Regions from separate parts of the Homo sapiens genome. Here region 2 is linked to region 1. Evidence: fine-mapped expression QTL. A gene starts in region 1. The other region holds a variant in brackets. All regions are shown on one strand. Distances are between the middles of the regions. Region 1 holds the start of PPP1R14C (protein phosphatase 1 regulatory inhibitor subunit 14C). Region 2 holds the start of LOC105378054 (a long non-coding RNA gene).

Region 1 (8,331 bases):
TTTTTTTCACCCATTTTTCATCATGTCTGAACAGTGAGGTGAGAACTTACGTTAGTTTTTGAGACAAAATTTTAGACTTGCAACAATGATTGCTGTTGCTTTTTTTTTTTTTAATGCAAGCAACGGCCAAATTATTTTGGAATTACGATCCTAAATTGATCCCAGCCTGATACAATCAAAGGTCCAGAATTAGAAGGAGAAAAAGTGGAGAGTGAAACAGTAGCCAAAAGAAAAACTTCACTGATATACTGTCAACAGCTGTGCTGTTATCACTCTGTAAAGAACAATGAAATATTGGAATGAAAATGGAAAATGCTGTGGGTAACCAATGGAATCCTGAAAGACAGATTAAGTTTCTTCAACATTTATAATGAAAACCAGACTGAAAATAATTTTTAATTTGTCTTTTTGCTTCATCAAATCTTGGAGAGGATTCGGATATAGGCATCTTATCATTTGACATTTATTACTCAAGATAAGAAGATTATGTTCAGGTTTGTGGGTCTCCAGGATGCAATTATAACATTGTCAAAGTAGATTACCAGGTGTTGCATAATTATTGTGCCGTTTAAGGAAATTTGCATCTGAGTATAAACATGTGTATTTAATTATTTTCCTGGGGGGTGACAAAAGTTCCAGGACTCCTGATTAAGTCATCCATCCTGTCTAACAACCTTTGGGCATAAAGATCATATTCAGAGATAAAGGACCTATATAATTCCTAAACAAACAAACAAAAAACTTTGTCCAATTTGGGAAGCAAGTAAAACATAACCAAGCTAAGAAAACACAAAACTACGAAGAAAAAGATTCAAATGAAACATCCTTAGGCTGCCCTCTCATAGCAGGGAGTAATTGCCTTCAGGTAAAAGTTGATTCCGGACCATTCAATTCACTGAAAGCTATTCACTGTCTTAGATTAACCAGCACCTAAAAACACTTGACTAAATAGGCTAGAAATAAAAATGTTTTCCTTGAATAAATGTATATATTATTGGTTTTGTAGATGAGAAATACCACTGGTTTTGCCGAATTTAAATAGTCAGCTATGTAAAGGGTCTCTGGACTAGGAAAAATTCCTTTATTCCTAAATATTTTGGCTTCAATATTTGAAATCTGCAAAAGCAGTATTTCTATCTGTCAAAATGAGGCCATTAAGTTTTGATTATTCAAACCTGGAATGAAGTGTGTGTGTCTGGGGGTAGAGGAGATGATATGGACTTCACTTTGAATATAAATTACGTACTGGGTGGAGCAAATGGATTTAAAGAAAGAGGAACCCTGGTTCAATTCTATTTGCCAGTCAAGGTGACTCACTTGAACATCTGAAGGCCAGCGTACCTGTGGAAAGAGACTATTTCCTGGATTTTCTTCTGTGAGTCAAGATGCTTAAAACCCATGTCTTTTAGTATCTGTCATTTTGGAGTTGTAAGGGAAAATTGAGTTTTAAGCATAAAGGAAAAAGCATCTTATGCTGTGAGAAAAAAATTGACATCAGAATTTCTCAGAAAGAACTTAGTGAATTTTTTAAAATTATTTGACGTTATCCTTGAATGACTGATTTCGTTGTCCAAAGACTTAAAGAAAGGAGTTGGAATTCCCCAGACTTTGCCAAACTGTGGGATGGCACAATAGGTATTGTCAGGTCCCAGGGCCAGAATGAGGTAGAGATTTTATGTAGTTTCTCCTTTGTTAATAACATTTAAGCTGTTTTCGTTCTGATTTGCATTCTCCTGATTAGTGCAGTTGGTCAAAGCTGGTGCTAGCGGACTTGGCCAGATGTCTGGAGCCATATAAGCTGATTCTGTGTGGGAGATGCTGGGGCTGGTTCCTGCCCTCCTTTCCCTTCCTCCTTGCAGACAGAGTTCCATTTTGAGGTGGTCACTCTCTTGGCTGTGTGTTCGGGGTTTACAGTGACCCACCCTAAAGGCAGAGGGGCAGAGGTGGTGCAGAGACTGGTCATCGGTCTCTAGGGGCAATCAAGGTAATTCATCTCCCTTGTCCCTGATAGGCTCGGTGCAAAACCCATCTTCTAAAGGGCAGCTGGCCTCTTCTAGCGGGGCAGAGATCGTTCAGCTTTGACCCCTTTGTAATTATGGCAGGAGTCCAGGGCCCCACACCAGCCACCCTATTTCAATCTCCGCAGATCCTTCCCCTTCACATTGTGAGGCTTGACATGTCCCTGTGAAGAGCCGCAGGCATGGAACACTTTGGGAAAATCCCTATTCAGGCTCTCACTGGAAAACCCCAGACTGAGGGTACAAAGGCAATGGATCCTAAGCCTGGGTAGAGCAGAGCTGGGCGCTGGTGGATCGCAGAGCCTGAAGCGCCAGGAGAAACCTGCTGGTTACTTTTATTTTGTCTTTGTAGTGTCAGTCTAGAACCCCACACAGGATCTTCTCCATCATAGGAAAGTGTTCCGAGGAATTTGACTTGGTATCTATTTTATCTCTGAGAAACTTCTTTGAGTAGCTGCCAGTAACCTTTAGGGCTCTTTTATTTAAAAACAACAACAACAACAAACAAACAAAAAAAGTTCATGGCCAGGCGCGGTGGCTCACACCTGTAATCCCAGCACTTTGGGAGGCCCAGGCGGGCGGATCATGAGGTCAGGAGTTCGAGACCAGAATGACCAACATGGTGAAACCCTGTCTCTACTAAAAATACAAAAATTAGCTTGGTGTGGTGGCGAAAGCCTGTAATCCCAGCTCTTCAGGAGGGTGAGGCAGGAGAATCGCTTGAACCCCGAAGTCAGAGGTTGCAGTGAGCCGAGATCTCGCCACTGCTCCCCAGCCTGGGCAACAGAGAGACTCCGTCTCAAAAAACAAAACAAAACAAAACCGTTACTAAAAGCCGCTTACTTGTATTCATTCGGACGTCTCTGTGGTTTCTATCAGTTCCTGAACAGGAATGTATTGTTGTGTACAAGAAGAATATGTTAGTGTCTCCCTAATTTTACACATGCAGTTTTCTGTTTACAACTTCCCTCCCCACCTTATTGTCCTAACCCTTCTGAGAAGCTCCTTCATGTGTAACTACTAGGCTGTGATGTTTTGCAGTAGAGTCAGGCAGTGCTGTTGCCCTCCTGGGTGGAAGGGGCTGTTTGGAATGGGATGGAGAGAAAGCTGGCAGTGCACGGGACGCAACACTAGAAATGTGAAACCAGGACCCTGTCGCCGACCCTCTTAGAGAAATGTTTACTGTCTGGATGCCCCCAGACGCCTTGCCTGAGCGCCGTCACGCTTTCTGCCCTTTGGATACGAAGATATCCGAATGCTGTGCCCATGATTAAGCAGACGCTTAGTAAGGAAAGAAAACATTGGTCTGGAAATAATTTCTCAAGCGCCGTGACTGCCTTATTGCACAAACATCGCCTCTTCGATGTTTCTCACAATCCAGAGAGGAAGTGGCATCCATCGTGGCATGAATAGGAATGTGTGTTTGGAGCCGTGGGGCGGGGCTGGAGGGGAGGGGACGCTACCCAGCCAACAGAGGAGACGGTGGGGCTAGGAAAACCTCCTGGGGGAGCCTGCGGCGCGGTCCTTTCCTGTGTCCCCTTCGCTGCGGGTCCTGCCCGGGGCCGCGCCAGGTGGAGGCCCCGAGAGGCGGCGCGTTTCCTGCGCTCCGGGATTGCGGGAGAAGCGTGAGTCCCTGTCTCCGAGACTAGAGGCCACGGACACCCGCGCAGGAGCATCCCCTGGCACCCCGCCCCACGCCCGTCCTTCCGGAGTCTACACATCGGCGACCTCCCGTGTCTAGGCGCACACATTTCCCGCCCCGCGGAGACTCCCACGCCCCGGGCCCTCTCTGCCGCAGGCGCCAGATCCCGCCTCTGGGGGCTGGACCGAGAGGGTCCTCGGCGGCTTCTTTAAGGCTGCGGTCCCCGCCCCGTCGTCCTCCCCGCCCTCCTCCCTCTCGCCGCGGCTCCTCCCGCCCTCCCAGAGCAGCCGGGCGGCTGGGCGCGCGCGGCGCAGAGCAGGTGCCGGGGAGCCCTTCGCATGCGGCTGCCGGGCCGGAGGTGGTAGCGGCGCCGGGCGCGCTCCGCCCGCCCCTCCTCCGGGCCGCACTGAGGCTCGGGCGCGCGGGGACATGTCGGTGGCGACGGGCAGCAGCGAGACGGCCGGCGGGGCCAGCGGCGGCGGCGCACGGGTTTTCTTCCAAAGCCCCCGGGGTGGCGCCGGTGGCAGCCCCGGCTCCAGCAGCGGCTCAGGCTCCTCCCGGGAGGACTCGGCGCCCGTGGCCACGGCGGCCGCTGCAGGGCAGGTTCAGCAGCAACAGCAGCGGCGACACCAGCAGGGAAAAGTGACAGTGAAATACGATCGTAAGGAGCTTCGGAAGCGGCTGGTGCTGGAGGAATGGATCGTGGAGCAGCTGGGTCAGCTCTACGGCTGCGAGGTACCTGGGCGCGGGGCTGGGAGGGTCGGGGACCTCTCTAGCTCCTCTGTGCCCGCGCAGTAATTTTCCCGGGCTCCAGCTCCGGGGCGCGCATGTCCCTGACTCCCGGGGACCAAGTGCCAGGAGCGAGGCGCGGCGCCTTCTCTCCCCCGCGGTGCCCTCTGGCGTCGGGCTCAGCGGTTGGGACGCCCCTGTCTGGGTTCGGCTGCCGGTGCCCGGGGATCTGCGGGCCCCCTTGGTGGCCGTGGGGAGGGTTGGGTCCCGCGGAGCACAGTGCTTTTCTCCGAGCTCCGGGCGCCTCTGGGCTCCAGCTGCAGCTGCGCAAAGCGGGGCTCGGAGGGGCTCACTCCAGCTGCGCCTCAGCAGCGGTTGGGGATACAGCAGCCAAAGAGAGCAGCGCTCACTGCTGGGATCCGGGCAGCCCTGATTTTTGTGGAGAACGAGCAGGGAAGGAAGGAAGCTGCCTCGTGGAAAGGAGAGGTTCTGGGGATCTCAGAGGCCCCCTTGGTTCTTGAAATTCCCCGTGAAAATCCTGAGATGGAACGCTTTCCGCTTTCCAGCCAGCCCCGACGGTGTCTCCATAATTCCGCCCTGCATTATCAGAGCTGCACACGTTGTGCTTTGTTGAAGCCGTAGTTTTTCCTCTCTAAGCTCAGTTACTCCCATTGATGGGCGCAGAATGAGCATCTGGGGCAACCTCGACGGGTGCCTCGGTGGAAGGGCGGGAGCCCTGCGGGGGGCCTGCGGGATCCCGGGATCTGTCAGCTTCAGGCTCCCAGCTCCCCTCTCCTCCACGACATCGTGACTTCCCAAGGTCCAGGGACTAAGGTCATACACAAGTCTCAGGGACGTGTATACATTTGATTTAGGGAGAAATATGTAGAATAAACTGCAGCAAAACGACTGAAGCCAAAATGATCTCTCATGAGCATCTTGAATAACAGTTATTAATTCTAAATGAAGTGACCTCCTCTTAAGGGAGTGGAGTTTGGAAAGGGTGGAAGCATGAAGGGGTTAATAATTAAGAATGTGGCTTCTAAGCTAAAGCTAGGTTTGTGTTCATTCAACTGTTGTGCTCTTCAACAGAGATGACAACCAGATGAACTCACAGGCTTTACCACTAATGTCGGGTGTTCTGTATTTGACACATTTCATGGCCTGTTGTGAAGACACGTTTTCTTAAACACCCTCATTGCACAAGAAAACAGCATACTCGTTACTGACTACTGATAAATGATTATAATATAATGAAGCTTGACTGTATGACTAATGGGGTTGTAAAAATGTGTTGTTTCTCCAGTCCAGCTCTTACAAAAAGCTAATTTAATTGCATAAATAAAAACTGGCAAACATAAGAAGTATTCATGAGATTTTTATAGGAAGTTGGCAAAACTCTGTAAAGAAACATTATTTGATGTAGATGGGATTACTGTTGGATGAGTGGATGTGCTCAGTCCTGCCTCTGTAGAATCCAGTTAATTTTCATTTATTTCATACTGTTTTTTTTTTCTCCATTTGGGATTTGGAAAAGATTCGAATTAATAGAAAAAGCATTGTTGAAATTAACAGTGCACCAGCATGGTTCTTTTTGTGGGAGACTAATTAGGCTTAGATTGGGAAGCTAGAAAGAGCTCTACCCACTGAGTAGCCTGATAAACAATATATTTAAAAAATACTTCAGAATAATTAGAAAAAATGGAGGTTTGATTGTTTCCTGTGTGGAACATGTAGGTTAGGTATATATTTTAAAGGGTAAACATGAGCTTGAATCTTTTCCTTGTATTGTACTTTTCTTCTTGGGTTTTAAATCTTCAACCCGTAGCAAACAGCTAGACATTTGAAAGGGAGGTTTTTGTGGTGAAATAATTCAAGATGCTCTATATGCTGCCTGCATGTCATTAACGTGGCAAGTATTTTTCTTCAAGTTGTTTGTTCAGTCATTGTAGGCTGAAGGAAGAGAAATAATTAGGTTGTTGGCAATTTGTAATCACTATGCTGGTGGTGTACCTCCATTTAATAATAAAGAAACATGGGCAAATAAGTAGCCAAATAAAGGCTTGTCTCTTTGCATCTATTTCTCTGCTGATAGTGCTCTATTTTTAGCATTGGGTTCTCTTGTTGAGTAACCTTTCTTTGTTGATAGCTTCAAGTATTTCAGCCTCTGGTTTGTGAATCAAGAAGGACGCACCCTAGCTTACAGCTCCGAACTTCATGCATACGAAGATTAGGAAATGTCCTTTTTATACTTAAAAGTGGTAATTCTTTCAAATGTTTAGCCCATGAAAGTGACACAGCCAATTTCCCAGCCTTCAAACCTCAAACCTGCCAAAGGCTTGAGTTATCTGCTGAGTTGGGGTAGAATATGAACACATCTTTAATTTCAGAAGAACTTGACCCAAGCAGGTTAGGAATCAGATGACTTGACCTTTTCAGAATAGAAAATAATCTTTTGGAGCAGTGTAAAGTGATGTATTTAGAAAGAGGAAGAGGAAAGAAGAAATACACAGAACCACTTTCTGTCTGTGTTTTTTTCTGGAAGTGTGCAGTGACTAATCAGTTTTGTATGAGAATAATGTCATAGGGGAATTTATTACCTACCTACTAGGTGACTAGGTGCTCTTCTAGGTACTTTGGGCTAATTCATTTAGTCTTCATAACAACCCTATAAAGAAGATGTTCTTTTTATCCTTGTTTAAATGTAAATAAAGAAGTGAAGACTCAGAGAGGATTAAAAGGCTGCTTCAAGCTCATGTAGCTGGTGGGTGGGTTGGGGTTGAGGATGAACCCAGTCTGGAATCTGAGTCCACTGTATACCCATGAGGCCTGTCTGTACCGTGCAAGAGAGCAAATGTAGGTCTACAAGACATCTGTCTAAATGTTTAAAACTTATGAGTTAAACTAACAACATTTGTATAAAATTTCTTCTGTCCACTGATCTTGACAGCTACATCTTCATAATGACCTTGAAGTCTAGGTTTGCATTTTGAATTCAAAATGTTACTTCCCAGAGTCATGAACTGAAATGCAGTTAGGAGACTGCCCTGGCCTGGGTTTCTTCCCTTTTGCTTCCCATCCTTGGTACAGTCCCACCTGGTAAAGGACACTGTGTCCACTCGCACGCCCAGTCTTGGTATGCACCTGCCACTCCTTGACCATGATGCCTCTGCACACACCAGTGGTGATGTCCCCCTAGGCCAGAACAGATCTGGGAGGAGCTTGTTCATGCCCTAGAAGCTACTTGGGATTTGAGAAGGGAATTCTGGGGACCCGGATCACAGACTAAAACCAAGTGGAGGGGCACTGGTTCTGGATAGATGTGTCCACTTTGTCCTAGGAAGTCTTCAGGAAGACAGGTTATGGCAGGAGTGGGGCCCGGAGATGTGGTCCCCTCTTACCCAGTCTAAGGGCAGCACTGTAAAATACCACGTCAAATAGCCTTTTGAATACGTAGATAAGTGCTTTTATTGGATTCCAAAATGATTTGTTATGTGCTTATAGTTCTTTTCCATCTCATCTTCTCTTGGGAAGGCTTATACAGGTACATTTTCAGCTAGGAATTTGATTATAATGTAACCATTAGACTAAATCTACATCTACATCCACATTTAAGGATTTCTGTTTAAAGACCTTTTTTTTTTTTTTTTAATCTCTTCCAAACCCTGGTGGGTTTTTTTTGTTTTGTTTTGTTTTTGTTTTTTTGAGATGAAGTCTTTCTCTGTGGCCTAGGCTAGAGTGCAGTGGCGCAATCTCAGCTCACTGCAACCTCCGCCTCCTGGGTTCAAACGATTCTCCTGCTTCTGCCTCCTGAGTAGCTGGGGCTGCAGATGCGTGCCACCATGCCCGGCTAATTTTTGTATTTTTAGTAGAGACAGGGTTTCACTATGTTGGCCAGGCTGGTCTCGAACTCCTGATCTCATGATCCGACTGCCTCAGCCT
Region 2 (8,331 bases), 130 kb after region 1:
TTATCATGTACACATATGCCCTAAATTCTTTTGTGTTGAGCCCCACATTCTTCACTTGTAGGAAATCCAGACTTCACAGATTGTTCTTCCTCAGATATTTTCCAGATTCCTGGGTTACCAGGAATAATTGTACACATTGGAAGTAGATTGATAAATATATAATTAATAAGATTTTGCCTTCTGGAAAAGAATCCCTCCAAATTAAAACAATCATGATTAGCCTAGTGTATTAGTTTGCAGGCTGCCATAAACGAAGTAGCAAAAACTGGGTGGCTTAAACAACAGAAATTTATTGTCTCATAGTCCAGGAAGCCAGAGCCCAAGATTAAGATGTTGGCAGGGTTGGTTCCCCCGGAGCGCTCTGAGGGAAAATCTGTTCCATGCCTCTCCCTGAGCTTCTAGCCTCAGGCGTTCCTTGGCTTGTAGGGAGCTGTCTTCTCCCCGTGTCTTCACATCGTCTTCCCTCTATAAGTGTCTGTCTCTATGTCCAAATTTCCCCTTCTTGTAAGGATGCCAGTCATACTGGATTAGAGTCTTCCTGATGACTTCGTCTTAACTTGATCATCTATAAAGACACTATGTCCAAATAAGGTCCTATTCACAGGTGCTAGGGGTTAGAACTTTAACATCTTTTGGGGGTAACCAGTTCAACCTATAACACCCTGCTTTCATACTGGGCCCAGTAAACTGTAAACTGTGCTTATATCTTGGCCCCAAAGTAATGCCCTTTAACTGGTGAATAAATTCCTGGTTTCAAGGTATTTATGTGCAGAGGACTCCAGCTGACTAATGTTGAGGGCCATGTGCTGTTATTTTAACATTTACTGTTGTTATATTTCAATATCTTTTTTATATCTTACAATAAGCCCTCATTTAGTTGGTGATGCTAGTGGGAAAATATGGGTTGGAAATAAAACTAGAAATAAAAAAACTATGATGAAGGCCAAAACCATGACACACACTATGCTATTACCTTCAGAGGAGAGGAGGCTCCGTGAAATATCAGAGACACTGCCAAAATAATTTTTACAAAGCATTATTACATGGTTGTTGATGTACACACTCTGAGAAGTTATTTCCCTTCCTTGCATTTATTTCCATGTAAAACTGACTTTGGGTTATACAAGGACTTTGGGCTGAGTCCCTCGGTGCAACACTCCAGCTCAGCACTTATGGAATGCTGCATGCCCGCCCACACATCTTCACCCGCGGCTCCATTGGATGAAACATCATTTCCTGAGATATCACCCTGAAATGTATAGGGAGGCAACTGTCACTATATCATGTAGATGCAGTTACTGAGATACACAGAGCCTAGAGGCTAGTAAAAGGCAGGGCCCGTTTGTGCCATAGCCTCCGGTGGAAGAGCGTGGGAGAACAATAGAACCCTTCCATGTGTACAACACTGAGTTCAGAGTGTTCAAGGAGCTGGTTCCAAAGTTCTTAGAAAGATAGCAAAATCCGTAATGATGGGAAAAGATGGAGTTACCCACTGTGGATCCATTCTGCAATGTTTCTCCTTGAAGTGAGATCAAATGCCTGAGCACGAGTTGTCCTGAGGTCTCCTCCTTTTGAAAGAGATTGGCCAGAAATCAATTGCCTGATTGAAGTCAGCCTTGCTGTTAACTAAAGATCAAGCCAGATGGCGCAGGTCACTAAAGATGACTGGTTCTGCCCCTGCTGGGAACAGTTCTTGGGCCAGCTGCTCTAAGTCCCCCGCCAGCTTTCCACAAATGTCTGACCATCTTGTCACCCTCTTCCTGCAGACATGATCAGACACATTCCCTTCCCCTGAGCCTGTCTGTAGGGAACTGTGCAGTGCCAGCAGAGTTCTGGAAGGATGAAGTGCTGAGTCTCTGTTGGGTACAGACACATCCAGTTACTGGCAGGACAGAGTAGTGCTGTGGGCATTTAATCAAGATTCTGTTAGGCAGGGAGGTGTGCTGAGGCTGGAGTTCAGCAGGGAATGAGAGCAATTGCTTATATTTCCTGAGGAGCTACGATGGCCAGCTCAGCACTAAGTGCTTCATATACATTACTTCATTTAATTCCCACAACATTCCAGTGAGGCTGGTGGGTACTAGTACTGCTACTGTCCCTTTTCACAGAGAAGGAAACTGAGGTTCCAGGTCATAAAGAAGTTGCTTAAGCATACAGCTAAGAGCAGGAGAGCCAGGATGTTAGCCAGTTGGTCTGATTCCAGAGTAAGGTCTTCAGGTCTTGGAATCAGAGTTGGTCTGATTCCGAGGTTGGTCTGTCTGCAAAGACATCAAGGAGTTCACAGTGCAGTGGGAGAGAGAGACAAGCCAGCTGGGATTATATGAAATGATATGAGGATATGATATGGTAATGTGATATGATATATTATATGATCTGGTATAATGATATATGATGATATGATATGGTATGATGATATGATAATATGATATGGTAAGATATATATGGCCTGTGATGAGGCTGTGGAAACAGGGAAATAACACTGGATGGAGTCTTGTGGGGGCAGGGAGATCATGAAAGCATTTCCAAAGTTGGAGTTCTAGCTGTGTGTCCCCACAGCACCCTATGATGGTTAATGTTATGTTAACTTGACTGGGCCATGGGATGCCCAGATATTTGGTCAATGTTATTCTGGGTATTTCTGTGAGGATGATTTTGGACAAGGTTAACATCTAAATTAAGAGACTGAGGACAGCTGATTGCCCTCCCCAATGCAGGTGGGCCTCGCCCAATCAGCTGAAGGCCTGAAGAGAACAGAAGGCTGAACCTCCTGTGAGTAAAAGTCCTCCTGCCTGGATGCTTTCAAACTGGGACATCAGCTTTTTTTCCTGCCTTCAGACTCGAACTGAAGGATCCACTCCACTCTTCCTGGGTCTCCAGCTTGCAGACTCCCTCTGCAGATCTTGGGACCTGCCCACCTTTATAATTACGTGAACCAATTCCTTATAATGAATCGCTTTATTTGCACACACACACGTCCTATTGGTTGTTTCCCTGGAGAGCCGTGACTTGTACACACCCTGTTCTTATTCTGTCACAATGCCTGTTACAACATCTCAGCACTGGCCATTTAACTGCATCTCCTACTGAGCTGGAAGCTCTGGTGGATAGGGGCAGGTCTGCTCATTCACTGCTGCCTTCCCTGCACCTGGTACCATGCACACAGAATAAGCCTAGCAGAATGCCTGTGGATGGACTGACCAATGAAAGTAATGAGGTGCTGGGACCCGAAGGCTGAGTGGCATGAGTCATGAGGAGGC[A/G]TAGGTGGAGTTGGAGGTGGGAGGAGGATGATGTAGCAAAGGTAATGGCATGAGTCAAGCGTCTGGCTGAGAATGGGCACAGTGAGTCTCAGACATCAGTGACTCCAGCAGGGCTGGAGCCTGCAGGGGGGTGGCCAGTGAGGGGGAGGGGAAGCTGGATGGTTGGATCATGAAGGGCTTTGCACAAAAGTTAAGCAGTTCGACTTTATCCTGCAGGAAGTGGGGGTGGCTAAAGAGTTGACAGATTCTGAATCTACCTAGCCGTGTGACCTTGGCCAAGGTATTTAACTCTGGACTTGGGTTTTGCTGTTGTTTGGTTAGTTCGTTTCTTTTTTCCATTAGAAAAATGAGGGAAGTAATGTGTCTGGGATGGTTGTGAGACTCCCATGGGTGTGTCGAGTGCTGTGTAAGGGGAGGCATGCTGGACATCTAAAGGCGCAGTGGGCATGGGGCCCACCTCAGCCTTGGCACACAAGCAAGTCCACAACATCCTTCTCCTCTGAAGGCTGACAATCGGCAGAATGTGATGAATGACTGTCTGATGGCATCAGAGAGTTGCAATGCTGTTAAAAGAAAAACCTTAGACAGATTAAGTTTAACAGAGTTTCATTGAGCAAAGAACAAACCTCAAATCGGGCAGCACTGAATGAGAATAGGTTCAGAGAGGCTCTGGCCCAGCCACATGGTCAAAGAAGATTTATGAATAGAGAAAGAAAAGTGACAAACAAAACGGAAGTGAGGTACAGAAACAGCAGGATGGGTTACAGCTCTGCATTTGCCTTATTTGAACATGGTTCAAACACTTGGCCACCTGTGATTGGCTGAAACTCAGCGCTTGGCACAAAGGTTATAGTTGTGTACAGCCAGCTAGATTACAGTTCACCATGTACAGAGAAACCTGGCTGAACTTAAAAATGTAAGGAGGCAGCTTTAGGCTAAACTTGATCTAACAATGCTTTCCCCATGCGCCTGGCATTTCTGTCTTGGGAGCATCCAGATGAATAAATGACGTCTAGGAAGAGTCCCAAGAGTCCCTGGGAGAGACTCACAGGTGCATGAGAGAGGAGTCTGTTTTGAAAGCAAGGCCCATTGAATTCCAACTAGAAAAATCTCCGTTCGTTTAAGAGCCATGTGTCTCCCTGCACTAGTTTGGTATTAATATTTATCCATGTTCTTAGTATATTCAGATCAGCTGCTGACAAGGCCTTTTCATTGATCAAATACACTACTCTATATGAAGAAACATAGAGATTGAGTGGATTAAATATATATCTCAAAGCCTTCCAAACCCCACTTTGCTCCCAAGATAACTATTTTATTTTTCTGAGCTCTCTAGAGGAAGAGAGGCAGATTAGTTTTCCCAATGGTGTAGTGACCAGGAACTCCAGAAATCTGGGGATCAGCAAGCCACTGCACCATTACAGGGCTCCAGGGTCCTACTCCTTAGCCACACTCCAAGGACCAGGAATAAGCCATTGCAAATGCTAGTTCCAGGAACACGCTGACCCAGCTGTGATCCAGGGATCAAAAGCTAACACCAAACCTGTTGGCTACAAAGCTTCCTGTGAGCCCTGCCTCCCTTTCTACTTAAATGAGTTCCTAATTCAAGGCTGCATGAGGGCCTTTGGGTGGCCATTCACAATCACAAGGAAACCTCAGTTGCAGGAGAGTCTGGGATATTCAGTTTGCAATATAAGAAAGCCCTTAGCAGAAGGTTGGGATAGATAAAGAGCTGCCATATTGTCACTGATAAACTGGGTTTTTTCACCACTTTGTGTCAGTCACAAAAAAAGAACATCCAGCTGGAAAAAGCAATCAGGCTTTATTCACTAGCCAAGGAATGGAGAAGGTGGCTCTCACTCGAAAGGTAGCTTCTTCCCAAACAATAGAAGGTGTGGGGTTTTAAGGACCAGGTGCAGGGCGAGAGAAGCGTGTTTGCATGTGCAGGGCGGGACTCCAGATATGCCTAATTCATAAATATATATGTTCATATATCACCTGTACACAAAATGGTGGAGATTTTCCTTTGGGGGAGGAAATTTTAGCATTATAATGATATGTTAATGATCTGAAGGCAACTAAGGGTCATCTATTCCGGTTTGTGCTGGTTTTGTGGCATCTTATCTTCCTCTGCTCTTTGGTCAGTGGTCAGTAAGCTCTGGTGCCATCCCAGGCCTTCTGGTTTCATTAAGCAGCTGTGCCTGTAGATAAAGGGACTAAAAGAAAATAGAAAAAGGAACTTTCCCAGTGACGTCATCAGGGCTGCCCTGGTAAAAATACTGGCTGCCCTGAAGAAGACCTAGATATTCCTTGTTCAGTGTATGCCCTGAAAGATCAATGCTGGAAGCTGGCAAGAGGGAACATTCTCACTAGCTTTCTATTTTAAACAGACATGATTTAATATATTTACCCAGAAAGGTCTGAGCACACATCCTCTACTCTACCTTCCTCCCCAAACCCCACATCCCAGCAAATCTGTACTCAAGGCATTCACAGTTTGCAGAAATGATTTGCTAATCCAGGCTGGGGCAAGCCCCAAGAGAAGAGCTGACAATGACCAGTTTTCTGGGTCAGAGGCACAGAATCGAATGGGCCAGAGGGAGCCCATTCATCTCCCTTTCTTCCTCTTCAAATGTTGCTCCCTGACCCTTTATCTAAGACTGGATGGTTGATGGTCAATAAAATTGAAGTTCCTAAGCTCCTAAAGAGGTTTATGGAAACCGGCGTTTAGCTGGTGTCTCAGTGTGGCTGGTTGGTTCCTAACCAGTCTCTGCTTCTAAACTTTACCTCCAGGGCCAGGCGGGTTCAGGCACGTTCCTGGCGGAAGGTGCTCTGATGCTGTGGAAGACAGTTTCTTCATGGATTCCAACTGCTTGATTTGTGGGAATGACTCAACCATGCCTGTTCTCCCCCACCTTTGATGAGGCATCTGACACTGAGTTAATTCATTTGCATGGTGTAGACTATAGTAAATCCAGTGTTGGGACACTGTGTCATCTTCTTTCTGATTATGATGGTAACAAACGCTTGCCATAGGAGACTGGAAAAATCTATCCTATAGGAATATTGGAAAATCTATCCTGTAGGAAGAAAGAAAAAACTCACCTAAACTTGTACCACACACTGTCAAATCTGGGCACTTTTCCTTCTTTTTGTCTTTTTCCCCCTAAAGCCACAGGCGTTTAAAAACAACCTGAGCATGAGTCAGCCTGTCTGTCCACATCTACATACATGTGATCGAGGCCCTCATCTTGCAGATACAGATCTATTCTCTTGCAGAGACTCAACCTTGGACAATATCATTGCTTTCCACTGCAATATTCATTACTCCATCAACAAATTTTTATTTTTTATTCTTTTGAGACAAGGTCTCACCCTGTTTCACAGGCTGGAGTGCAGTGGTGCAATCATGGCTCACTACAACCCAAACTCCTGGGCTCAAGTGATCCTCCTGCCTCAGCCTCCTTAGTAGCTGGGATCACAAGTATGCACCACCATGCCCAGCTAATTTTTTTTCTTTTTCTTTTTTTGTAAAGATGGAGGCCTCGCTTTATTGCTCAGGCTGGTCTCAAACTCCTGAGCTCAAGCAATTCTCCCGCCTTGGCCTCCCAAAGTGCTGGGATTATAGGCGTGAGCCACTGTGTCCAGCCAGAAAGTTCTATTTTGTATAGCTAGCTTAACAAAACTGCTGCAGTGCTAGCCCCTATTCTTAGTCTATTGCCCATCTGGCCTCCACTATCTGGAAGATAGACAGAAGAGCCCACAACCTTCTCCAGACAACAAAGAAACTGGCCGGTGAAATCATCAAGAGGCTAGCTGGCGTCTGGGGGGTGTGAGGGAGTGCATTGCATTAATGAAGTCTTTTTATTCTTGGAAAAGTGTTTGGACAAAGGCTGTGCTATGCGTATGGCGTCTCTGCAGCTCCTGGACATATGCTCTGACTGTGCTACTTCTGCACACGAAAGGTCAGCATATGGCTTCCTTTCTCTTTCCCCGAGGAAAGTGACAGGCTGGTCATGGATGCCTCACCTGCTGTTGCTCTCGCTCTGGAGAAAGAAGTGTTGGAGGCATCACTGCCAGTAAATCTTCACTGGGCTCCCAGCAGGCCTGGCCTAGCTTGACCCCTTCATGGGTAACAGCAGAAGGCCACCTGCTGCTCCGCGGCTGAGCAACCAAACAGCACAGCTGCTGAGGTTAGGGTTTGAGGTGAAATATAGCCACACACATCTCCCAGGGTCACACGTGGGTAGCCTCAAAGGGCAAATAGGTCTTGAAATGATGGTCTCAGGGGAGAAACCACTTCCATGGCCTGTTCTCGAGCTGTCCAGCTTGGCAGGGTGAGAAAAGTCTGCAATGAATGGCCTTCCTGGGTCTTTCCGTCAGAGCAGCCTGGAGTGTGTGCTGAAGGTGAAACAGCCACCCCAGCGCTTCTCCTCCTCCTCCACACTCCTTCGTCCTTTTAGGTCCCTTGCCCTACCTTTGTCCTTGTTATTGCTGACAGTCAGAGCATCCAGGAAACAGAGCTGGGAAAGAAAGAAACCAGAAGGGAGGAGAGGGGCCTAAGATTGAGGGTTTGGAGAACAGATTAATGCTATGACCTTCAGCCGCCTGGGGACAAAAAGCACCTTCCAGAGAGAAGCCATTGAGCAGTCGCTGACGTTGCATCCATCAGGCTCGTACTGGTTGTAGGATTTGATTTTTAAAAGGCACATGTTTATGACTACGTGGCTTTCTTGTCCCACTCTATAGCAAGCTAACTGAAAGCACTTTCCCCCGTGTCAATCAGTTAAAGAGAAGGCTAGCAAATATGTCTGTGACAGAATAATCTTGGTGTTTCCTAATTTCCACTTCATGGCACTGTGGAAAAAGACATCTGAAGGTGCTGTGGAATTATATGGACAAGGCTGCAGGCAGATGGCGAGGCCGTGGAGAGATTCGACTTGGAACCTATTGGGAGGATATAGGGTGGAGACGCGTGATTCTGGATCATGTGAACCCAGGATGCACGTGAATTTCCTGCATCACCTAAGGAGGAAAGTGGGGAGGCTGTTGAGCGAAAGCAGCTTGAAATTCT

Evidence for each region. PIP is the estimated chance that this variant, and not a neighbour inherited with it, causes the effect. A credible set is the group of variants that fine-mapping cannot tell apart.
Region 2: its variant is the best candidate, but not a certain one, in a credible set for the expression of PPP1R14C in fibroblasts (GTEx, PIP 0.75).

The regions. Positions count from the first base shown.
Region 1 is chr6:150,139,104-150,147,434 of GRCh38, forward strand. It overlaps PPP1R14C (protein phosphatase 1 regulatory inhibitor subunit 14C), which reads left to right and starts at 3,941. Exons shown (of 4, transcript NM_030949.3): 1 at 3,941-4,395. The coding sequence starts at 4,090.
Region 2 is chr6:150,266,673-150,275,003 of GRCh38, forward strand. LOC105378054 (a long non-coding RNA gene) reads left to right here and starts at 2,740. Exons shown (of 3, transcript XR_943109.3): 1 at 2,740-3,298. RefSeq lists a cis regulatory region at 4,687-5,719 and an enhancer at 6,918-7,418. The variant A/G (reference allele first, on the strand shown) is at 3,258.